7 linked regions of the Homo sapiens genome follow. The protein of the gene in region 2 interacts with the protein of the main gene of each other region in a pairwise test. Each region holds a gene or a part of one and is shown on either strand. Other genes may lie near its edges. The genes, in order: DYNC1I1, FBP1, BAAT, AXIN2, TLR2, ASL and PTPRJ.

Evidence for each region.
Region 1: the proteins of FBP1 (region 2) and DYNC1I1 interact in a two-hybrid assay, tested with the Homo sapiens proteins (one large-scale study listed by BioGRID and IntAct).
Region 3: the proteins of FBP1 (region 2) and BAAT interact in a two-hybrid assay, tested with the Homo sapiens proteins (one large-scale study listed by IntAct).
Region 4: the proteins of FBP1 (region 2) and AXIN2 interact in a two-hybrid assay, tested with the Homo sapiens proteins (one large-scale study listed by BioGRID and IntAct).
Region 5: the proteins of FBP1 (region 2) and TLR2 interact in a two-hybrid assay, tested with the Homo sapiens proteins (one large-scale study listed by BioGRID and IntAct).
Region 6: the proteins of FBP1 (region 2) and ASL interact in a two-hybrid assay, tested with the Homo sapiens proteins (one large-scale study listed by BioGRID and IntAct).
Region 7: the proteins of FBP1 (region 2) and PTPRJ interact in a two-hybrid assay, tested with the Homo sapiens proteins (one large-scale study listed by BioGRID and IntAct).

The regions. Positions count from the first base shown.
Region 1 is NC_000007.14:96,034,554-96,038,053, reverse strand, and holds part of DYNC1I1 (cytoplasmic dynein 1 intermediate chain 1), read right to left. Parts: intron 2,436-3,500; coding exon 2,302-2,435; intron 1-2,301. UniProt on the Homo sapiens protein: Acts as one of several non-catalytic accessory components of the cytoplasmic dynein 1 complex that are thought to be involved in linking dynein to cargos and to adapter proteins that regulate dynein function.
Region 2 is NC_000009.12:94,608,519-94,612,018, forward strand, and holds part of FBP1 (fructose-1,6-bisphosphatase 1), read right to left. Parts: intron 1,544-3,500; coding exon 1,403-1,543; intron 1-1,402. UniProt on the Homo sapiens protein: Catalyzes the hydrolysis of fructose 1,6-bisphosphate to fructose 6-phosphate in the presence of divalent cations, acting as a rate-limiting enzyme in gluconeogenesis. Plays a role in regulating glucose sensing and insulin secretion of pancreatic beta-cells.
Region 3 is NC_000009.12:101,382,207-101,386,298, reverse strand, and holds the start of BAAT (bile acid-CoA:amino acid N-acyltransferase), read left to right. Parts: upstream 1-1,292; 5' UTR 1,293-1,444; intron 1,445-2,425; exon of another isoform or gene 2,426-2,556; intron 2,557-2,734; exon of another isoform or gene 2,735-2,829; intron 2,830-4,092. UniProt on the Homo sapiens protein: Catalyzes the amidation of bile acids (BAs) with the amino acids taurine and glycine. More than 95% of the BAs are N-acyl amidates with glycine and taurine.
Region 4 is NC_000017.11:65,541,149-65,544,648, reverse strand, and holds part of AXIN2 (axin-2), read left to right. Parts: intron 1-3,091; coding exon 3,092-3,194; intron 3,195-3,500. UniProt on the Homo sapiens protein: Inhibitor of the Wnt signaling pathway. Down-regulates beta-catenin. Probably facilitate the phosphorylation of beta-catenin and APC by GSK3B.
Region 5 is NC_000004.12:153,704,020-153,706,760, forward strand, and holds the end of TLR2 (toll-like receptor 2 precursor), read left to right. Parts: coding exon 1-1,243; 3' UTR 1,244-2,241; downstream 2,242-2,741. UniProt on the Homo sapiens protein: Cooperates with LY96 to mediate the innate immune response to bacterial lipoproteins and other microbial cell wall components. Cooperates with TLR1 or TLR6 to mediate the innate immune response to bacterial lipoproteins or lipopeptides.
Region 6 is NC_000007.14:66,085,819-66,089,318, forward strand, and holds part of ASL (argininosuccinate lyase), read left to right. Parts: intron 1-766; coding exon 767-844; intron 845-925; coding exon 926-1,003; intron 1,004-1,515; coding exon 1,516-1,568; intron 1,569-1,910; coding exon 1,911-1,973; intron 1,974-2,988; coding exon 2,989-3,103; intron 3,104-3,272; coding exon 3,273-3,357; intron 3,358-3,457; coding exon 3,458-3,500.
Region 7 is NC_000011.10:48,130,559-48,134,058, forward strand, and holds part of PTPRJ (receptor-type tyrosine-protein phosphatase eta isoform 1 precursor), read left to right. Parts: coding exon 1-158; intron 159-952; coding exon of another isoform or gene 953-957; exon of another isoform or gene 958-2,162; intron 2,163-3,500. UniProt on the Homo sapiens protein: Tyrosine phosphatase which dephosphorylates or contributes to the dephosphorylation of CTNND1, FLT3, PDGFRB, MET, KDR, LYN, SRC, MAPK1, MAPK3, EGFR, TJP1, OCLN, PIK3R1 and PIK3R2. Plays a role in cell adhesion, migration, proliferation and differentiation.

The sequences.
Region 1 (3,500 bases), on a different chromosome or scaffold from region 2:
GAAGTGGCCCCTGGTGAGACTCCACTTGCTCTTAACAGCATCCTGAAAGGATTTATAGGGTGCAAAATGAGGACCTTGTTTAATTTATGGAAGTGGATTTGCACCTTCTCTATGTTAGGTGAAAAATAGCAATCCCCTGCTTCTCCCCCATAGACCTATATGACCCATTTAGAATGACTACAAAGCCAATGCCTGCTACGTTACAATGTTACTAAGGTCTGTATTTTATATTTCAGATGGATGGACCAATGTAAAGCAAAATTCAGCTTGTTGTAAAAAGATTTGTGGTGTGTGCCATAGGGACCCTTCTTTTGAACCAAAGTGCATATTCTGATAGTGCTTAGAAAGTACAGTAGCCACAGAACAAGAATGTTCATCATGTAAAATGTTATTCACTTTATAGCAATGAAAAAAATCTGGAAATTATCAATGAATGTATTCTATAGCCTTCGTAGATAATCAAGGACCTAGGTAAAACCATGGGTTAAGTTAACTGAACCTATGCCATGTTGATTCTAATACGCATATAGATAAAGCTGTGACTCCAGGTCTGGCCTACTATACTCTCTATGCCTCTCATGCCACTTAAGACATTCTACTCATGTTCCAGATATTTGTGTATTTATCTTTCTCACCGTCATCAGTTATTTTGAAGAGAGAAACCAGGTTTACATGACGTCTGCAGGCCTTGCAGAACCTAACAATGCACTTTGCTCAAAGTAGGCATACAACAAATATATTTATGAATGAATAACTTTATCAAATATTTTTATGCTTTGATAAAGCTTTAATGTGTGGTTTTAGCCAGGGTTTATGAAGGAGGATCATTGGGAATGGACTGTGAGGCATATCTTCCTAAGTCATCTTTGAATCATGTGAGGGGACAAATACTGCTTGTTTCTACGTGCAGAACAGCAGGAACATAACAGCTTGTATAGTTTGAATGGAAAAAGTCACATAGCTGAGCCATGGATGCTTGTCATTTCTACAAATCACAAAAACACAGGGATATGAACTTGGAACAATTTGTGGTTCTTCATTAAATCTTAATAGCCTCGGATGAGTGCAAGAGATGAAAAAAAATCAATGGAATAAGAACTACTAAAGTAAAAGACAAATTAAGCACCAGTGTGAACATAGTGACCCTTTCAAAAGACATGAGGCCACCTGTTAAGTTTTGCATGCAATTTTACAATCTAGTCCAAACTATTGGATTCCACTTTATACTGACAACTCTTTTCCAGGGGCATTGTGAATCTCTCAGTTAAGGTAGAGTTCTTATCACCTGGGAACTGCATGGTGGTTTGTGTGACTCACTCTGTTCTGACCCATCTGACTGGGAGGAAAGCTTTTAAGGCACTTCTTTAGATTGGATGGATTACATTATATATCATTTCTTTATCCCCAATATATATTTTTAGCTCCTCACTTACTATGTCCTAGGTACTGTGCAGGAAATCAAAGATGAAATGGAAATAATGTAGTAAGAGAAAAATGGCAGATGAATGAATAAACTAAAATACGATTAATGCTATTATAGAAGCATAAGGAAAATATATGAAATTGTCAACTTGACAGCCTATAGTCCTATCCCACTTATTCTACTTTAATTTTCTCCATTGCACTTACCATCCTAAACTATATATTTATTTGCTTATTAGTATTTTACCCTCAACTAGAATATGAACTCTAGGTCTGTCTTGTTCTTTAATGTATCCTTTTGATGATGCCTGGCACATGGTAGGTTCTTAGTAAATATTCCTTGGAAGAGTGAATGAATAAGAGAATTGAAAATTCTATGGGACTTAAAGGTGGGAGTGGTTTTCTTTGCCCAAGAGTCAGAAAATGTTTCACATGGAATGATCTCTGTGCTGGCTCTTGAATGATGAGGAGGAATTAACCAGGCCAAAAAGGGAGAAATGCTAGAACTGGTAAAAGAAGTTGAGTATGCAAACTCATTGAGGCATGGAGGGATAAGAAATATTTGGGGATTGTTATCTCTGATGGGCACATGGCTAGACCCTGAAGGTATGCGGAGATGCTGGGAAGGTGCAAGTGGTCTGTTATGATAGGCTCAGAAGCTCGAGCTTTTTTCCCTCAAGGCAGTGTGAACCACCACAGTCTTATGAACAGCTAATGACCAGAGCAGATGCAGCTCTTTAAGATAATGAAGAGTTGAAGTCGTGCTTTCCATTTTTCCAGAGATGCTTTCTCATAATGCAAGGTGGTTAAAATCCAGAATGTGATAACAGACTTTCGGAAATGAAGAACATGTCATCAGTAAAGAAACAGAAAAATCACCTTCCATGACGACAAGCCGTGTAGACTGTACCTTCCTCACTGCCAACCACGAAGTTATTGACGTCTCCCGTTGGGAAAGCCATTCCGGTAACAGCGACAGGCTTGGACTTATTGTACACCAGCTCCATGCTCTCCTACCAAAACACGGTGTGGTTACATTTCCATCTGTCAACTCCTTGCCATGCCAAAGATAGCACGGAAAAATCATTTGGCTAAATCATGTGTTTGCTTTTCACACAGCGTTACAAAAGACCCCGGCTGTGCCAGAAACCATGCTTTACTGCCCCTGACATTCATGCTTCTGTGGATCTCTGGTTTCAAGCCGGCTGGATTTCATCAGCATGTGCTGCTGCTTCTTAAGTCAGGCAAAGATGACAGGTGAGAATTTTGAAACTAATGGTGCAGAAACTAAAGATAATAATGGTTACACTTGTCAGCTCCAAGCTTTAATAAAACACACAATACCCTTGTATTTACAAACATTTTCAAAATCAATTGTTTGTGAGAATACACATGTATTAATATCAGATGTACTAAGCAAATTTGTCAAAGCAGGAGTATGTGTCCTCCATGGACTAAAACCAGAAAGTTGTCACTCAGGTCATAAAAACCAGATTTCAACAGGGACTAGATTTCATGCAGGGCAGCCATTGGGTGAATAGGCTATAAGCCTGAAAAGAACAATATTTAAATACGTCTTTAAAATAGCAAATGGGAGTCTTTATTTTATAATATGATTTTTTAAAATTGAGAATTAAAGATTCCTAATCTTAAAAGATATACTGCTGAGTTAAGTTTAATGACAGAAAAGAATAATCAATTATAACTAATATCCCTGAGTATTTCTGGCTATTTACATCAAATAGCCTATTTTGTGCATCTGAAATAATTTTTAAAAAATCATTCTGAGGTATCATATCATTATAGTTGCTTGAGAGTTTAGTCTTTCTTGTGCAAATAAACTATTTCAGCCAAGGAGTCCATTAAATTGAAAGTGCAAGCTAACAGTCTAAGCAACACAGACTGATTCTGATCCTGTGATGTGTTCAAAGTTTGTGATATCCACACATAGGGTGCACATCAGCAACTGGGATAAAGGAGAGGATGCTGTGACTATGTCATACAGATAACTGGATCATCCAATGATCTGCTTCATCACTAAAATTAGCAGCAAGGAAGGAAAAGTCCCTTTACCCATT
Region 2 (3,500 bases):
GCAAATCACAGTCAGCAAACATCAGTGGTGCCCGAAATTCCATCCTGGGCTCAGGTGGAACTTTGCTCTGGTTCTGCCACTAACTCCCCCACCCCACCCCTACCCAGGTCACCACATTTGGCGACTTTAACTAGTGCTATTACCCTACCCTTGTTTATTTGTTAAGTGCCCATGCTTCCAAGGAGGTGAAAGTCCACTTCCCTGACAGCCTGGGACAAAGGCAGCCTGTGTTGAGTTAGCCTTCCTGCCACACACAGACCCGGCCTCACCTCCAGCAGCCTATCTCGCACAGAAGGTTCCTGTTCCTTGTCTGTTCCTGGGGTTCAGTTTGCCAGCAAAAAGCACTTTACACATAGTTCACTAATGTCATAGGAGGACATCTCTAAAAGTTAAAAAAGTTGGCCAGGCATGGTGGCTCATGCCTGTAATCCCAGCACTTTGGGAGGCTGAGGCGGGCAGATCACCTGAGGTTAGGAGTTCGCGACCAGCCTGACCAACATGGCGAAACCCCGTCTCTACTAAAAATACAAGTGTGGTGGCAGGCGCCTGTAGTCCCAGCTACTCAGGAGCTGAGGCAGGAGAATCGCTCGAACCCAGGAGGCAGAACTTGCAGTGAGCCGAGATCACGCCACTGCACTCCAGCCTGGGAGACAGGGCAAGACTACATCTCAGAAAAAAAAAAAAAAAAGAAAGAAAGACTGCACCAGTTAACTGAAGGTTTGTGTAAATGTACACGAATAAATGTGGGAGCTATTTTTGAAGAAGCAATGTCGTCCACTGCTTCAGTTGGCACACCCATTCGTCTCAGGAAAACAGCCTTTTGGTGACTAAAGTAGAAAAGCTAGAAATGGATGGATACAGTTTATGGCAAACAGAATATCTACAGCCCCATCAGGTCCATAAATGCATTTTAGTTGGCCAACATAGTGTTGCACACATGCAGAAACATTATGTTTTTTACAATCCAGTGTTTCTTGAACCATTAATAGAAGCCTTGGCAAGGCGGGCCCCCTCCTCCCAATTGTAATTGCTGGAACTCTTCAGTTCACCCCAGTTCCACCCTTGCCCCCCGGCCTTCCTTCCCCAGCACACTTCATCATCCCTATGGCCTGCCTGGACCTGGCATTTGGGTCATTTGAGTAACAGCTGCTCTGAGGAATTCACATTGGAACAAAGACCCCCTCTTGTGCCAGTCTGAGATGGCATTTCTCACCTCCATAGTCTGCTCGGGAGGCATACACTCTCTCTTGGTCTCCTGCCCCCTTTCCACCACACATCATCATCTCTGTCCCTCCATGGGCATCACCTCCCACCTCCACATACCCCTGCCAATCCCCCACACATATCATTCATTTGCTCACAGACACCAGCCAAGCCCCCAGCCTCCTGTGAGGTCTCTCACCGGGTCCAGCATGAAGCAGTTGACCCCACAGTCCATGGCAAGGACCAGCATGGTGGCACTGCCATACAGTGCGTAGCCGGCTGCCACCAGGTTCCGGCCTGGTTGCAGAGCATCCTTCTCAGAAGGCTCATCAGTTGATTTCTAGAGCAAGAAAGAAATCAAAGAATGTTTTTGTTTTGTTTTGTGATTCTTTTTTACAGTTCAACCATTAACAGGAGGCATTCTCAAGGTGCTCTTCTAATGAAATAGGGCATCTTCCCAGAGGGGCCTTCCCCTACACATCAGCAATATCCTGATTAGATTATCACGGCAGCCTTCCCACCAGAACCCAGATTTCCTGCATCTGGATTCCTCTTTCCAATTAGGGCCCTCCTCCAATTTTTCTAATGTGATATTCCCTCATCTCTCCACTATCAGTTCCAAAAAAGAGCATGCCTTCTTGCCAGTTCCCACTAATTTAATCTTATTACGGGCATCCATCTCTGTCACCTGCCTACTCCATCTTTATTTAAATAAATTAACACTGGGCTGCAGGGCAGCCAGTCTGCGGAGGAAATCAGTTTTGTGAGCTCTTGCCGCTGCAGCCCATACTCTGCTGAGCATGTGGTCTATATCACTCACACGTCAGGGAAATTCTCAGAAACGTAGGAACTCAGAATATCTCCCCAGAGTCATTATGGGGTAGAGCAGATGCTGTCCAGTGTTTTAACCGTGATGCATGGGAAGAAGCACATTTTACATCACAAACCAGTGCCCCCACACACACACCAAAAAGTTACCAAAATAATACCTACACTTAGAACGTGGCATGTGCCGTAATCCATTTTTTCATTAAAAACACAGCCCACTGGGTCATGTGGTCCAGAGTTTTTCTAACACTAGGGAAGGGAGCCCCTTAAGGAGACAGCTCCTAACCACTGATTTCTTACTATTAATGATTTTCTTCTTTTTTTTTTTTTTTGACACGGAGTCTCGCTCTGTCGCCCAGGCTGGAGTGCAGTGGTGCTATCTCGGCTCACTGCAAGCTCCGCCTCGCGGGTTCACACCATTCTCCTGCCTCAGCCTCCCAAGTAGCTGGGAGTACAGGCGCCTGCCACCACACCCAGTTAATTTTTTGTATTTTTAGTAGAGAGGGGGTTTCACCGTGTTAGCCAGGATGGTCTCTATTTCCTGACCTCGTGATCCACCTGCCTCGGCCTCCCAAAGTGCTGGGATTACAGGCGTGAGCCACTGCGCCCAGCCTGATCTTCTTTATTAACACTGGATTGACCTCTTTGGTCATCAAGACAGCCCCAAACAAATCTTTCAGCTTAACTACTCTCTGCTTGAATTAAGCAGAAATAAAAATATGCAATTTCTCGAACTTCACTTATTCTTTTCCTAGATTCCTGCAGCTGAGCGTAAGCAGGGGCATCTGTATCACGCAGCTGGAGAAGGAAGTCATCCCAGCAAAACATTCCAGGTAATTTCTTCCCATAACTTTCAAAAGGGTGGCCCACAGAGCACCTGCATTAGAATCACCTGGGATATTTATTAAAAATGCACATTCACAGCCGGGGTCATGACTCATCCCTATAATCCCAGCACTTTGGGAGGCTAAGGTAGGAGGATCATTTGAGGCAAGGAGTTTGAGACCAGTTTGTGCAACACTGGGAGACCCCATCTCTACGAAAAAAAATTTTTTTTTAATTAGCCAGGCATGGTGGCATGTGCCTGTGGCTACTAAGGAGGCTGAGGCTGGAGGATCACTTGAACCTGGGAGGTCGAGGCTGCAGTGAGCCATTATCATTCCACTGCACATGCCTGGGTGACAGAATGAGAACCTGCCTCTTTAAGAAAAAGAAAAGAAATGCATATTCTGGGGCTACAGCCTAGACACACTGTCAGACTTTCCATGGCGGGGCCTGAGAATCTGCATTGCACTATGCAATGTGAAGGGGTGACCTTCACACTCAAGTGTAAGAACTTCACATTCAAGCATAACAACTACTCATATAAATGAGAAAACCACAAACCAGAAAACCACAAACCCATTTCTTTCCACCGCTTCCCTGCCCCTCCTAGTTTTCACCTGGGGAGGTGGTTAGTTAGCTGGTTG
Region 3 (4,092 bases), 6.8 Mb from region 2:
TTGTTGAGGCGATTAGGGTAAGGTCATTATAGTGTTCAAATCTATGCCTTTACTGATTTTTTTCAAGTTTTCTACCAATTGTTAAAAGGGATTTAAACACCTTCACTCATGGTTATGGAATTGTTATTTTTCCTATTTCTCCTTTTAATTCTGTCAATTTTTGCCACATAAATCTTGAAATCCATTATTCGGATTTATGGTTTTTATGATCTTGTCATATAGATATATGATATATATATATTTTATAATCTTAGTCATTACTACTTTAGGTTTCTTATGCTTATTGTTGCATAGTATGTGTTGCGGGAAGTCAGGGACCCCAAATGGAGGGACTGGCTGGAGCCGCGGCAGAGGAACATGAATTGTGAAGATTTCATTTTAATATGGACATGTATCAGTTCCCAAAACTAATACTTTTATAATTTCTTACACCTGTCTTTACTGCAGTCTCTGAACATAAACTGTGAAGATTTCATGGACATTTATCACTTCCCAAATAATACTCTTATAATTTCTTACGCCTGTCTTATTTTAATCTCTTAATCCTCATATCTTGGTAAGCTGAGGATGTACGTCACGTCAGGACCACTGTAATTGTATCTGACTGTACAAATTGATTGCAAAACGTGTGTTTGAACAATATGAAATCAGTGCACTTTGAAAAAGAAAGAATAACCGTGATTTTAGGGAACAAGGGAAGACAACCACAAGGTCTGACTGCCTGTGGGGTCAGGCAGAATAGAGCCATATTTTTCTTCTTGCAGAGAGCTTATAAACAGACGTGTAAGTAGGAGAGATATCGCTAAATTCTTCTTGTAGCAAGGAATATTAAATATTAAGACCCTAGGAAAAGAATTGCATTCCCAGGGGGAGGTCTATAAACGGCCACTCTGGGAGTGTCTGTCTTACGCAGTTGAGATAAGGACTGAAATACACCCTGGTCTCCTGCGGTACCCTCAGGCTTATTAGGATGGGGAAAAAATCCTGCTGTGGTAAATCTGAGGTCAGACCGGTTTTCTGCTCTTGAACCCTGTTTTCTGTTGTTTAAGATGTTTATCAAGACAATACATGCACAGTGGAACATAGACCCTCATCAGTAATTCTAAGTTTGCCCTTTGCCTTGTGATCTTTGCATTGCCCTTTGCCTTGTGATCTTTATTGGCCTCAGAAGCATGTGATCTTGTTCTCCCTTTTGCCCTTTGAAGCATGTGATCTTTGTGACCTACTCCCTGTTCATACACCCCCTCCCCTTTTGAAATCCTTAATAAAAACTTGCTGGTTTTGTGGCTCGGGGCCTCACGGTCCTGCTGATATGTGACATCACCCCCGGAGGCCCAGCTGTAAATTCCTCTCTTTGTACTCTTTCTCTTTATTTCTCAGACCAGCCGACACTTAGGGAAAATAGAACCTACGCTGAAATTTTGGGGGCAGGTTCTCTTGCTAGGTATGTATTTTTTTCATTTACTTACTTCCATTCTTTTAATGTAATTTTTCACCACAATCCAGACTCTCAGTAATCCTTTCCTTGCTTTTGTTTAAAGATTTACTCCAAAAATGTGGCCTATAGTTTTAGTTCAGCAAATACAAATTTGAAAGATTTATTTATGTGTATTTATGACTAGTTTCTAACGACATTATGTTTATAAGATTCATCCAGGTTATTGCATGTAGTTGTAATTCATTTATTTTTATTCTCTAGAAGAAGAATTGCTGGGTCAAAAGTTATTCATATTGTCACATTTATTAGACAATGTCCAATTGCTTTCCAAAGTGGTGGTACCAATTTATATTCCCTTAGTAGGGCTTGAGTCTGAGTGATTCACTTCCTAACCAACTCTTATTTTTGGAATTTTTAATTGTTGCCAACCTTTTAGGTATGAAATACACACCATGATTTTAATTTGCATTTCTTTGATAATGAGATTAAGCCTTTTCCCATAAGCTTATGATTGTGTCCTATTGTCTGTTAAGTACCTGTTTAAGACTTTTTCTCATATTCACCTGAGATTTTTAGACATTACTTTTTTAGGAATATTTTATGTATCCCAGTTAATAATTCTTAATCAGTTGTATCTGTAGCATAAGTCTTGCAAGGTAGTAGCTTAATAGTTTTCAAGTTTTTTATGGAGTATTTGGCTGATCAGACTTCCTTAAAATTAAGTTGAATTTAAGTTTCCTTTAAGTTTGCACTTTTTAAATGCTCTATCACCTCAAAAAAGATCCAGTACTTTTATGGAGATAGTCCTTTTATTGTCATGTAAAATCCTACTAACACTCCGTTCTGTAGCTATTTCAAGAAACCATGTGAATTAGTTGAGGAGGATTAGTAGGAGATTTGGTCCTCCCCAAATTCTGAAAGTGGGGCTTGAGTATTTTATTACTCATTACTGTGATCACATTTGTAGTTTTCATCTTTTGTTGTCTCAGGAAAGAAACCATTTGCAAATGCAGAGCCCTCCAGAAGTTACCTTGAGTATTTTATTGCAGAAGAAAAATATGCCCTAATGGTGCCAATAGGGGTCAAACAACTTCTATAAAGAAAATTATTAAAATAATGTGAGTAAAATGTAGTGGCAATCCCTAAGAGGGACGGATTTAGAGAGAACAGAAAATGAAGAGGGAAAATAGTGATACATTTATTGGGTTCAATAACTGTTAAAAATTAATAGGAAACTAGAGCAAGAGGTATGTGGTGACCTAGCACTTAAGTTAGCTCTGTTATACTTCCAAAGGCATATTTGAGGTTTTGGCCTTCTGGGCAAGTTTTGGTAGGGTGTCTGTCATTTTCCCTCTACTGCTGGAAAAGAAGGCTCAAGAGGAAGAATCCAGGTACTTTGTATTTTAATCAGGACTATTTATTTGGGCCGATTGGAAATAAGTTAAAATCTCTGCTCTTGAATTAAATCAGAGTTTATTTACCTCAGTGTTTGGAATTTTAGCAGTTCATGAGGACAAATAGTCTTTTTGTTCATTTCATAATCTCAGCTGTAGAGTTGCCCAGAGTGCTCAGATAAGTGTGTCTTTTCATTTTGATTTGCTTAGAAAGGATGTCAGTAGGGACTTGCTATTATGATGATATTGAGCTGAAATTTATATTTCTGAGGAAAATGAAAGGCTATCAGAAGTCATTTGTTAAAATTTCTTTATTCTGTCTTCCCCATCCCCATCAATATTTCTCCCTCTTTTAAAAGACTATTGCCTAGAATTTTATAGAATAAGCCCTCCTATTCTGGGAAACTGTACTGTGGTCCTATTTATATTTTGTTTGAAGGGTAATTTTCTTTTAATGTAAGACTAATGCCATGTTAGAATTAGATTCTGTGAAAATATTTCTTGAAGCTTTGAATATATGTTATACCTATTTATGCAATTCAGGAATGCTTTCTGGTAGTGAAATGTAATGTTAAAAAATACCAAAAAAAGCAAGTATAAGTTTGAGCTAAAGTTAATGACTTTCTAATTGACTTATTTCTGTTTGGGCACGCTGGTTGATGCATGTGATATTTGTATAGAAATAAATTGAATGGATAATATTGTTAGGGGTGGTGAATATCTGAGTTACTGGTGGCAAATCTGTATGGGTCTGCAGCAATCTCATTTCTTGCCTCCTCGAAAGAAAGAATTCAACTGAGGGGCATAAGGCAGTAAAAGAGACCAAGGCAAGTTTCAGAGCAGGAGCAGAAGTTTATTAAAAAGCTTTAGAACAGGAAAGAAAGGAAAACACACTTGGGAGAGACCCAAGCAGGCATCTTGGAGGTCAAGTGCCTCGTTCATCCTTGAACCTAGGATTTTATATGCTGGCCTACTTCTGGCATCTTGCACCCCTTTCCCTTCATCCTTCCCTTAAGGGTTATGGGGAGCCACCCACATGCATGGTGCCCTGCTTGTGCTTGGGATGTGGGCATGCACAGTGTGTTTACTGGAGTTTTATGCATGCTTATCTGAGGCTTTCTTTCAAATTCTGGTGGAATGCCCCTGGAAGGTCATACTCTGCCATTTTGACTCTTAATGTGCATGTTTGAGCTCATTCGCCCAGTTCCTGAAAGCTGCCAATTATCAATTTCAGGTGTTTTTATCAGTTGAGAAACTGCC
Region 4 (3,500 bases), on a different chromosome or scaffold from region 2:
AGGCTTGAGCAGCCAGGAAACTGATCACAGACTTTTAGAGCTTGAATAAAAGAAGAGAGGCCCCCTTTTGGAATGAGGGGCTGTTTTGGAAGAAGATTCTTGGCTGGAGGGAATTAAAGCCACATTTCCTTGAAGGTGCCTGTTAAGCCTTTCTGAGCCTCTACAGGCTGACATCTTCCTTTTCTGCTCTGGTTACAAGTTGCCTTTCCAGCAGTTTAGTCCTTCACCTGCCCTGGGTAATGGAGTGTGTGTGGTGGTGGTGGTGGGGGATGGGGGGCGGGGTATGAGGTGCTTATGAAATCATTTGTTCCTTTTGCCTTCAATATTGCAGTTATCTACTCCCCTCCCCATCCCTACCCCCATCCTGTTTTTTTTTTTTAACCTTATTATATGGAAGAAGAAAAAGAGGCATAAAAGCTCTACCACTGACTTTCATCTGGGAGAAGGAAGAGTGAAAGCTACCAGTGGAAATGTCAAGAGTCTTGGAGGGGGTGGACGGGGGACTCTTCTAGGACTCTTGAAGCCTTATGTCACTTGTGTCATGGTGGGGTCCATGGAGTGCTTGACTCCTGCCCCCAAGACTGTCAGGAACAGGGCTGAAGCAGAGTCATCCACTGTCTAAGTCCCTAGAAGAGAGATGGAGGATAGACATTGTCTTACAGCCCTAGGGCAGCAGAATTTGGTTAGACCAGCATGAGCCCAATCTGTGGGATACCGCCACCCCTACCATACAAGGTATCTTAGGTGAGAGATGGGGATATTCAGCATGGCTTGGGAACCACCTGGCGAGCCCCATAGCTAGTGAGTACTAGGTGGTTGGGGAGGACTTCCCAGAAAATTCCACAAATTTCCCCCTCATGCCTTATCAATGTCAGGTGACTGCGTGGGGCTTAGGAAATGGCATCTCCACATTAAGACCATCAGGAAGCTTGACTGCTGATTGGGGCTGGGAAGGGCATCTTATTGAAATGACCAAGTGTAGGTTGTTACAGATGCCTGTTCTGGAGTCCAGCAGTGGCTTGGGTATGAGTTGTCAATCTGCTACTGACTGTAACACTAGGTGAGCTATTGAGCATTTCTGGTCATCTGTAAAATGTGGCTCATTAAGGTTCTTATGAGAATGAAGTCTGATTATAGGTCCAATGTCTGACGTACAGTAGGGACTCGGTATCTATGAGCTGGCATTCTCAGGTTGGCATCAGTTGCCTTGGGTGCGATTTGGTTTCTGGTCAAGCCAGGCATGCTTATAAGTCCCGTTTTCAGCTACCCAAGGTGAAGACACAGAGTTTTGATAAATAATCTTTAGGTGGGCTTGGTCAGGTGCCGAGCCTCATGAGTAGGAGGCTGTTTCTCAGTCATGAGTAGAAGACGTGTTTCTCCAGCACTGGTCAGCCAGCTGCTGCGAATCCTTCCCACAGTGCTCTGTCTCTGCTCCATACTTACCTTTCTTTGGGGCAGTACTCACACTTGGGGGTAAGTTGTTGCTCTGGATACTGATCTCTCTTCTCTCCCTTCCCTACTCACCTCAGTGCAATTATCGTTTATGCACTCCTTAGCCAGGGTTTGGTTAACATACATTGGTTTGTTGATCTATTGGAATCTTCATTGTCCCTTGTGTTCCTGTTTTCTGACCTAGGTCAGTAGACTTCCTGAAAATGCAGCTATTTAGAATTCTAGGGCATTTCAGATAAGGAGCTAGAGGTTGACTAGTTACTCCTGGCTTGCCCCCTGGGTATTTTTAGACATTGCTAATTATCCTATTTTTCTTCCACCCTATGATGAACCAGACATTGGGGAAAGGGAAGTAGCCAAACACCCAATTTCAATATTTACAGCCTCCAAGTATGATTCATTATGAAAATGTTTGCACCCTGAGGCTTTTGTAAATAAGTGGCCTCCTGAAGGGACATCAATGGGAAAATAGTCACACCTTGACCATTCTGCTTTTAAGAAGGAAATTCTTTCTGGAAAAAATCATGGCAACTCTAGGTCATAGTTGTAGTGAACACTAGCTGGAGTGGCAGCTTTTTAAAAATTCTTCTACTTGTTAATGTTTTGTTTTTAAAAATATAATGGATAGGGGCCCATACTTCTTCAGGTCTTTGCCCAAAGGTCCCTTTCTCAATGAGGACTTGACACCCACATCCAATTTAAATTTGCAGCTTACCCACTCACCAGTGATTCTCCTTTTCCTGCTGTGTATTTATTCATAGTACATATCACTAACATACTATTTTTTATTTTGTTCATTGCCTGTGCCTCCCCATTAGAATGTAAACTTCAAGAGGGCAGTTGTTTGAATTATGTATCCACTTTGTCTACTGCTCTCTTGCCTAGTGCCTAGGAGAAGATCTGGCACATAGTAGGTGCTAATCTTTAAATGGATTGCACAGACCACCACATAGTAGGGGCTTTTCTCTTCATGCCCACATTGGTCATGTGTCTTTGAAAATTCATTGGTTGGGGGTGGTAGGGTTTGGAGCTGAGAGAAGGGGCCTAAATGTTATATATTCTTTTTATTAATCACGCTGTACTGGTTTATAAAAAGAAATACATTTGGAAATGACTAGGAGGTTGACTTGGAGAGTTATGCATGCTTCACTAATGCCTGATTTAGCCCTCTGTAGGTTTGGTTCTTATCCCTACAACTTTCTGCCCTGGCCCTATCCATAAGGCACTGGTTCCTGGTTTGAAGCAGTGGGAACAAGTGGGAGGACCAGTGGGGCCTGAGAATCTCCTACTTAGGGCACCTGTAAAATAGGGGAGCCTTTGCTCTGCCTGGGCTGGCTGGAGTGTAACCCAGTTCTAAGACAACAGTCCGAGAGATTAACTTTCCAGGCTCTTTCCAAGTTGATGCTTCTGCATCCAAGGAAGCCAAGTTTCCATAGATGATTGATGGGCAGGATTTAAATTTGACCTTGGGTGGGTCCTTCCCTGTGGGAGCACCGATGGTATCTGGAGACATGTGACACTCCTATGGAAGCATGTGGCCCTGTCGGCGGGATCTCAAGATGGCATATGACAGTAGCCCATGTGATGTGCTGAAAACATCCTCGTAAGCCTGTGGATTCTGTCTTTTCCTTTCCCTTAGAGATGGAATTCCTCCTTATCGTGTGGGCAGTAAGAAACAGCTCCAGAGAGAAATGCATCGCAGTGTGAAGGCCAATGGCCAAGTGTCTCTACCTCATTTCCCGGTGAGTACAGTCTGGAGTGAGGAGACAGCTGTTTTCTGCCATGTTGAGTCCTAAAGAAAAGAAATGGGTGGTGGAATGGGGAGAGGTATAGGGAAGGTAGAAAAGAGCAGTACCTAAGGTCCCCTAGGGCAAAGGGAGAGAAAAGAACTGGACAATAGGCATTACATGGTTTTTTGGGTTGTGATGGTGAGCACAGTGATGTGATTATGAGGTATCAGTCAGTTTTGCTATAAAGGAATACCTGAGGTTGAGTAATTTATAAAAAGAAGAGGTTTACGGCTGGGCACAGTGGCTCATGCCTGTAAT
Region 5 (2,741 bases), on a different chromosome or scaffold from region 2:
GATGGTTGAAGAATACTTGAAAAATTCAGCCTGTGAGGATGCCTGGCCCTCTCTACAAACTTTAATTTTAAGGCAAAATCATTTGGCATCATTGGAAAAAACCGGAGAGACTTTGCTCACTCTGAAAAACTTGACTAACATTGATATCAGTAAGAATAGTTTTCATTCTATGCCTGAAACTTGTCAGTGGCCAGAAAAGATGAAATATTTGAACTTATCCAGCACACGAATACACAGTGTAACAGGCTGCATTCCCAAGACACTGGAAATTTTAGATGTTAGCAACAACAATCTCAATTTATTTTCTTTGAATTTGCCGCAACTCAAAGAACTTTATATTTCCAGAAATAAGTTGATGACTCTACCAGATGCCTCCCTCTTACCCATGTTACTAGTATTGAAAATCAGTAGGAATGCAATAACTACGTTTTCTAAGGAGCAACTTGACTCATTTCACACACTGAAGACTTTGGAAGCTGGTGGCAATAACTTCATTTGCTCCTGTGAATTCCTCTCCTTCACTCAGGAGCAGCAAGCACTGGCCAAAGTCTTGATTGATTGGCCAGCAAATTACCTGTGTGACTCTCCATCCCATGTGCGTGGCCAGCAGGTTCAGGATGTCCGCCTCTCGGTGTCGGAATGTCACAGGACAGCACTGGTGTCTGGCATGTGCTGTGCTCTGTTCCTGCTGATCCTGCTCACGGGGGTCCTGTGCCACCGTTTCCATGGCCTGTGGTATATGAAAATGATGTGGGCCTGGCTCCAGGCCAAAAGGAAGCCCAGGAAAGCTCCCAGCAGGAACATCTGCTATGATGCATTTGTTTCTTACAGTGAGCGGGATGCCTACTGGGTGGAGAACCTTATGGTCCAGGAGCTGGAGAACTTCAATCCCCCCTTCAAGTTGTGTCTTCATAAGCGGGACTTCATTCCTGGCAAGTGGATCATTGACAATATCATTGACTCCATTGAAAAGAGCCACAAAACTGTCTTTGTGCTTTCTGAAAACTTTGTGAAGAGTGAGTGGTGCAAGTATGAACTGGACTTCTCCCATTTCCGTCTTTTTGATGAGAACAATGATGCTGCCATTCTCATTCTTCTGGAGCCCATTGAGAAAAAAGCCATTCCCCAGCGCTTCTGCAAGCTGCGGAAGATAATGAACACCAAGACCTACCTGGAGTGGCCCATGGACGAGGCTCAGCGGGAAGGATTTTGGGTAAATCTGAGAGCTGCGATAAAGTCCTAGGTTCCCATATTTAAGACCAGTCTTTGTCTAGTTGGGATCTTTATGTCACTAGTTATAGTTAAGTTCATTCAGACATAATTATATAAAAACTACGTGGATGTACCGTCATTTGAGGACTTGCTTACTAAAACTACAAAACTTCAAATTTTGTCTGGGGTGCTGTTTTATAAACATATGCCAGATTTAAAAATTGGTTTTTGGTTTTTCTTTTTTCTATGAGATAACCATGATCATAAGTCTATTACTGATATCTGAATATAGTCCCTTGGTATCCAAGGGAATTGGTTGCAGGATCCTCGTGGATATCAAAATTCATAGATGATCAAGTCCCTTATAAGAGTGGCATAGTATTTGCATATAACCTGTGTACATTCTCCTGTATACTTTAAATCATCTCTAGATTACTTATGATACCCAATACAATGTAAATACTATGTAAATAGTTGTACTGTCTTTTTATTTATATTATTATTGTTATTTTTTATTTTCAAAATTTTTAAAACATACTTTTGATCCACAGTTGGTTGACTTCATGGATGCAGAACCCATGGATATAGAGGGCCAACTGTAATCTGTAGCAACTGGCTTAGTTCATTAGGAAACAGCACAAATGAACTTAAGATTCTCAATGACTGTGTCATTCTTTCTTCCTGCTAAGAGACTCCTCTGTGGCCACAAAAGGCATTCTCTGTCCTACCTAGCTGTCACTTCTCTGTGCAGCTGATCTCAAGAGCAACAAGGCAAAGTATTTGGGGCACTCCCCAAAACTTGTTGCTATTCCTAGAAAAAAGTGCTGTGTATTTCCTATTAAACTTTACAGGATGAGAAATACTAGAGGGTGTATTTTCATGTGATCTGGATCTGTCTTTCTGGCTATTAGATAGGTTTCTCCAGCCATAGTTACTTGAGAGAGTGAGTACACAGTGCAAGGTACAGTAAATTATGTATTTCTGTAATTTAACAAAATAAATACTCAGTTTAGGAGAATTTGAAAGACACTTCCCACATCCGGACTCTGGTCTTCCTCAGCCTCTAACTACCTTTTGAGTTCTAGTTATTGTCCAATCACTCTGACTCTCAGTTCCTGTTTTTTAGCCTATATCTCCTGCATCTTGTTGCTTTTTCCTTCTTCGAAAAGTCTTGTTTTTAATTCTAAAAAAGCCTGCCCTTTTTCCCCTTCTGAATATTTTAAAAAGTACATGTGAGCTAAATAGATTTTTAAGCAAATATATACCTAGAGTTTCCTCATAATGACTCAAAAATAGTTTGATACACAGTAATTTAAAGGTAGATACTACTACCATATGTTAATTTTGCAATCTAGGTATAATAATACCACACATTAAATTTTGATGCAACTTTCTTTGGTAAGCACTATTTGCTGATTCTATGTAACTTTCTTAAGCTGGGAACCATGTGAAAGGAAGTGAGCCTTTGACCCCTGCTCAATTCTCAACCAGAACTGGGTGTATGTGGTTAATTGGGCACTAGAGTCAGA
Region 6 (3,500 bases), on a different chromosome or scaffold from region 2:
AGGATGGTCTCGATCTCCTGACCTTGTGATCTGCCCGCCTCGGCCTCCCAAAGTGCTGGGATTACAGGCGTGAGTTACCGCGCCTGGCCACAAGACCCCATCTTTACAAAAAACTAAAAATTAGCTGGGCATGGTGGCATGTCCCTTTAGTCCCAGCTACTCAGGAGGCTGAGACAGGAGGATCGCTTGAGCCCAGGAGATCGAGGCAGCAGTGAGCTATGATCATGCCACTGCACTCCAGTCTGGGCAACAGAACGAGACCTTGTCTCTAAAAATAAAAACAAAACAAAACAACAAGAAAACAGGACCATCACTCACAGCACCTCTGCCTCTGCCCTGCCTACTTGAATGAGGTGCAGGGCATCTCACCTGCTCAGAGCAGCCCTTGAATGAGCCCCAGCTATTTCTAGGGTCCTCAAACGAAACCTCCCACGGCCAAGTCATACCCAACATGGGCCTCCTCCCCTATTCTGGCCCCTGCTCGGAGATGCTGAGTGACAGAGGCTGGACTTGGGGTGTTTCTGGCAAAGCCTCACTGCAGGAAGCCCCACAGCTCAGGCCCAGTCCTTGGTTCACACGGTCCCACTTCCAGCTTCTTTTGCCCTTAAGACTGATTTGTCCCTGGGAGATCACCAGATCCCTCATTCAGGTGGAGTGCTGCAGCGTGACACTTTTTCCAGGGGTGACCCAGGCCTGCAGGGTTCCAGTGTCACAGGCAGGCCTTGCATGAGCCTCCACCCGAGCTTCTGCTCCTCCTCTCCCACAGGGAACGTGATGTTCTCTTCCCGGGGTACACCCATTTGCAGAGGGCCCAGCCCATCCGCTGGAGCCACTGGATTCTGAGGTGAGCCAGGTGAGGTGCAGGGGCTGTGCTAGAGGGGAGGACCCCGGCTGCCCTGACCCTCCTGCCCCTGGCTTCCCACAGCCACGCCGTGGCACTGACCCGAGACTCTGAGCGGCTGCTGGAGGTGCGGAAGCGGATCAATGTCCTGCCCCTGGGGAGGTGGGTGAGGCTCCAGTGCCCCGAGGGCCTGGTGGGGGTGGCTGCTGCATAGCCTTAGGGATTGACAGAGCTGGGAAGTGCAGAGTGGGACAGAAAACCGCCTTATCTGCTCAGCGGGGGACTCTGCATGGAGCCCCAGCTCTCGCTAAGGTGACGACCAAGCCATTGAATGTGTCTGAGCAGGGCCAGAGCCCTCCAGCAAGGCTCCTGGCAAGCCCAGCCTGCTGCCCTCAGCCTGACATGTGGGAACATGTGTCAGGAGACAAGTGTCCTGCACCCAGGGTGACTTAGTGCTTGGGGACAAGTGTTTTGTGGACACTTGGGGACAAGTATTCTGTACCCAAGGAGACTGGGCCAGGGAAGAGGCTAAGCGCCAGGTGGTTGCCCTGGCAACCAGGACTTGGTTCTCTGTGTGTGCGTTCGTGTGTGTGTGTGTGTGTGTGTGTGTGTGTGTGTGTGTGTCAGGGCTGCCTGCCAGGAGCCCTGGTCACCATGAATCCCTGTCCCTGCAGTGGGGCCATTGCAGGCAATCCCCTGGGTGTGGACCGAGAGCTGCTCCGAGCAGGTGAGACGTCCTGCCCCTCCTCCCCAGGGAGAATCACCCTCAGCACCCGCCAAGACCTGCAGACACACCTGAAACCAGAGGGCAGGGGCCTGTGGCTCCTGGTGAAACCTTCATTCATTGCCTATGGGCACTGAGGTCATCAAGTTCAGGGGTCACTCATGGCAGGGATGCCTGGTACTGAGAGACTCAGGGCTCCTGCCTCCCTCCTGGGACTGTGCAAAAGATCCCTCCCCCCAGCTGTTGCCCCACCCTGATCAGGGGAGGGGGCTGGGCAACCTAGTTGGGGGAGAGGGGGCCACTCCCTGTCCTCCAGCTTAGCCCTGCTTCCTCCCACCCCCCCAGAACTCAACTTTGGGGCCATCACTCTCAACAGCATGGATGCCACTAGTGAGCGGGACTTTGTGGGTGAGTCCTGGGGAGCCAGTCCCCTGCCCTGTGCCTCACTTTAGTCCTTCAGCCCAGCTTCTCTCCAGTTTCCTCCCACACCTCCACGGACAGGCTGGTTGTGGTGATATTGTACACTGAAGTATAAACCTTAAATGGGTAAAGTGGGTGGGGCATGGTGGTTCACCATGCCCAGCACTGGCCAACATGGTGAAACCCCATCTCTACTAAGAATACAAAATTTAGCTGGGTGTGTGGTGGCAGGTGCCTGTAATCCCAGCTACTCAGGAGTTCTGAGGCCAGAGAATCACTTGAACCCAGGAGGCGGAGGCTGCAGTGAGCCAAGATCACGCCAGTGCACTCCAGCCTGGGCAACAAGAGCGAAACTCCATCTCAAAAAATAAAATAAAATAAAATAAAAATAAATAGGCCAGGCATGGTGGCTCACGCCCGTAATCCTAGCACTTTGGGAGTCCGAGGCAGGTGGATCACATGAGGTCAGGAGTTTAAGACCAGCCTGGCCAACATGGTGAAACCCCATCTCTACTAAAAGCACAAAAATTAGCTGGGCATGGTGGTGCATGCCTGTAATCCCAGCTACTCGGGAGGCTAAGGAAGGAGATTCGCTGGAACCTGGGAGGTAGAGGTTGCAGTGAGCCAAGATTGTGCCACTGTACTCCAGCCTGTGCATTGGGAGCGAGACTCCATCTCAATAAATAAATAAATAAATAAATGGATAAATTGTATGTGAGTGATAACTCAGTAAAGCTGGTTTATTTAAAACAACAACAATAACAAAAAACACGCTAGGTGCAATGGCTTACGTTTGTAATCCTAGCACTTTGGGAGGCCAAAGCAGAAGGATTGCTTGAGCCCACAAGTTTCAGAACAGCTTGGGCGACATAGCACGACCCCATCTTTGCGAAAAATGAAAATTTAGCCGGGTCCCCCCACCGCCTAACCTCCTCCTGCCCCCTGTATGGTCAGGCTGGGTGGGGATGGGAGAGGCCTGGTGACTGGGAACCTTTTCTCCCAGCCGAGTTCCTGTTCTGGGCTTCGCTGTGCATGACCCATCTCAGCAGGATGGCCGAGGACCTCATCCTCTACTGCACCAAGGAATTCAGCTTCGTGCAGCTCTCAGATGCCTACAGGTAAGCCCTGAACTGCCACCTCCATCTGCCGCTGCCGGCCTCTGTATCCCCCGCCGCCCGCGGACGTGGCTGCCTTCCTCCCCGTCCCACCCCTCCGCCAGACCTGGCCATTGCGGCGCTGGACCAGCCAAGGGTCCAGCCCCTTCAGCGCCAGCACCTCTGTCCCCAGCACGGGAAGCAGCCTGATGCCCCAGAAGAAAAACCCCGACAGTTTGGAGCTGATCCGGAGCAAGGCTGGGCGTGTGTTTGGGCGGGTGAGCAAGGCAGGGGGAGGGGCGGGGCCTCTGGGCTGATGGTGGGTGGCCAGGGGGGCAGGATCCCGGGTCCAGCCCCTGTGCCTCCCTCTTCCCGCAGTGTGCCGGGCTCCTGATGACCCTCAAGGGACTTCCCAGCACCT
Region 7 (3,500 bases), on a different chromosome or scaffold from region 2:
CACACAGGAGGGAGCTGGCAATTCTCGGGTAGAAATAACCACCAACCAAAGTATTATCATTGGTGGCTTGTTCCCTGGAACCAAGTATTGCTTTGAAATAGTTCCAAAAGGACCAAATGGGACTGAAGGGGCATCTCGGACAGTTTGCAATAGAACTGGTAAGCAAATAGGCTTTTCTGTTAAACCATCATGTTTCTTAAAGGAAATCAGTATAATTAATAAACATAATGTTTCCAAATATTGTTTTTCTTTTAATTATCTAAGAAAAAACTTTAAAAATTTTCATAACACTAATGCTTATTTATTATATGAAATACAGACAAGTAAGTAGAAAAAACTTACATGGAAACCATCAAGCAGAGATAATCACTTTTGATGTATGACATTTTACAATTTTTAAACATATACATATAGATACACAAATATATGTGTGAGTATACATATATTTAATACATATATATTTAATATTTAATACACACACACACACACACACATATATATATATATATATATTTTTTTTTTTTTTTTTTTTTTTTTTTGAGACAGTCTTACCCTGTCACCCAGGCTGGAGTGCAGTGGCATGATCTTGGCTCACTGCAACCTCCATCTCCTGGGTTCAAGTGAAGCGATTCTTGTGCCTCAGCCTCCTGAGTAATTGGAATTACAGGTGTGCACCACCATGCCTGGCTAATTTTTATAGTTTTAGTAGAGACAGGGTTTCGCCATATTGGCCAGGCTGGTCTTGATCTCCTGATCTCAAATGATCTGCCCACCTCAGCCTCCCAAAGTGCTTGGATTACAGGTGTGCGCCACTGCACCCAGCCCACAAATATATATTTATTTCTTTCACAAACATTGAGGCCATCTGTACATGTGGTTTTGTAATCTGCCTTTTCCCCAACTTGCCAATTAATTATGAATATTCTTTCCTCTTAATAAAATATTTCTACAGGATGATTTGAACACCTGCCTGGAATTCCATCATCTGAAACAGAGTTGGCAGATAAGAATGGCCCCTATGCCAAATTTGGCTCATTGTCTGTTTTTGTAAATAAAGTTTTATTGGATCACAGCCATGTTCATTTGCTTATGTACTGTCTATGGCTACTTTGGTGCTAGAATTGAGTAGTGGCAGCAGAGAACGTGTGGCTTGTGAAGCCTGAGATATTTATTTTCTGGCCATTACAGAGAATGTTTGCTGACCTCTGGGCTAGATCAGTGGTTTTCAAATTGTGGTCCAGGGCTCTCTAGGGATCCCTAGGTTCTTTCAAGGGGTCTCCAAGGTAGTATTATCATAACAATACTAAAATGTTATTTGGCTTTTTCATTCTCATTCTCTTTTGGAGTTTTCCAACTTTGATCCGATATGGGATGACATTGTCTCTCAGGTCTAATGGAATATATGCTGTGGATTCTTACATTTTAAAAATTTCTTCATTTTAAATCCCTGATATAGTAAATATTAATAAATATAACCTATGTAAATACAAATTCTCTGAGAGCCTTAATAACTTTTAAGATGGTAAAGAAGTCCTGAGAGCAAAAAGTTTAAGAACCTCTGGTCAAGATGTGTTAGAAATTAACTACTGTGCTGTGTTGGGCAGGTGGACTGTTCACAGTCTTTCCTAAACAACACTGTGATGAGATACTTTGTTAGTTCTAGAAGGCTAATTGAAATTGATAAAATCATTTTATAGTCAGCTACGGTGGCCTGCACCCATCGTCCCAGCTACTTGAGAGGCTGCGGCAGGAGGATTGCTTGGCCCAACAGTTGCAGACTAGCACCAGCCTGGGAGACCCTGTCTCAAAAAAAAATTTTTTTTTATAGAAACAGTTTAAATTATTAAATTATTTCTAGGCCTACAGGAGAAACTTCTGGGAAATCCTAGAGAGTAATGTTCATTATTGTTGTTTTAAAATTTTGAAATAATTGTTTTTTGGAAAGGTTGAAAAACATACAGTCTTCCTTGATCTAAGATTCAAGATAGTTGAAATCTTTTATACAGAGGGTAGAATAAAGATATACCTAATGTAAATGATGAGTTAATGGGTGCAGCACACCAACATGGCACATGTATACATATGTAACAAACCTGCACGTTGTGCACATGTACCCTAGAACTTAAAGTATAATAAAAACATATATATATATATAAAAGAAATGGGACAGATTCCTTGAAACACACATGAAATGAGTTACGCTTTTGAGATTCTCCTTGAAGAAGCTTCTTCAACTGTGCTGGTTGGGTTAAGCACCGATAGTCACTCAGAGGATCTGCTTCTGAAATAAGGGATCTACTAAAATGCATCCCTCAGATGAAATGCAGTATTCCCTTTGCAAATCTGCATTTCAGACTGTTGACATGACGTCTTAACGTCAACATGTTTCTTCTGTCTTTTAAGGATGTGGATAATGGTAAGAGGATCACCACTGAGGGAGATGCATGATGTTGTGCTACTTGCTATTGCCCAGAACTTACTGTAACAATAATATAATATGCTGGGGGTCTGCGAAGTGCTGAGTGCTCTCATACTGCATTTTACATTTTTAACACAACTTCATGGAGCAGGTATTATTATCATTTCTGTCTTACAGAGTAAGAAATGGGGGCTCTGCAAACTTAAGTAACTGGCCCAGAGTGACAAGGTGGCAAACTGACCTGTGTCTGCTGTCTAAGACCAAGTGCTTAACCACCATGTAGATTGACACTTTGATGTGGTACAGCAGTAAAGTTTAGTATTAGTGAGGAGAGGGCATCTCTTTTACTATAGTTTATTGTGAATATTCTTTCCTCTTAATATCAGTATTTCTACAGGGTAATTTTAACACCTGCCTGGAATTGCATTGTCTCAAAGGACCCGTTTCATTCAATGGTCCCATTGAATGAAAGTCAAGAAGGCTTGCTATAAGATCTAAACTCTTAGGGGGGTTACCTTTCTATTATCAAATAACCTTTATTGTTATTGGAAAAAGTCAGCTTAACAGCATTAAAAGCAATTTCAAAAAAAGGAAACGAATACCATATGATCCAGTAATTCCAGTCCTATGTATATCTCCAAAAGAATTGAAAACAGGCCCCTGGACAGTTATTTGTACATCAGTGTTCATAGTAGTAGCATTGTTCACAGTAGCCAAAGGTGGACCCAAGATCCCATCAACAAATGAATGGATAGATAAAATGTGGTTCATCCATACAACAAAATACTATTCAGCCATAAGAAAGAAAGAAATTCTGATTTATGGTACAACATGGATGGATCTTGAGGACATTATGCTAAGTGAAGCCAGACACAGAAGGACAAATACTGGATGATTCCACTTACATGAGTACCTAGATTAGGCAACTTAATATTCTACAGAAATTAGAATAGAGGTTACCAGGGGCTGTTCAGAGGAGGGAGTGGGCATTATTGTTTAATGGCTACAGTTTATGCTGGGGATAATGACAGTGTTTTGGGTACAGGTAGTGGTGATAGTTACACAACATTGTGAATATTGA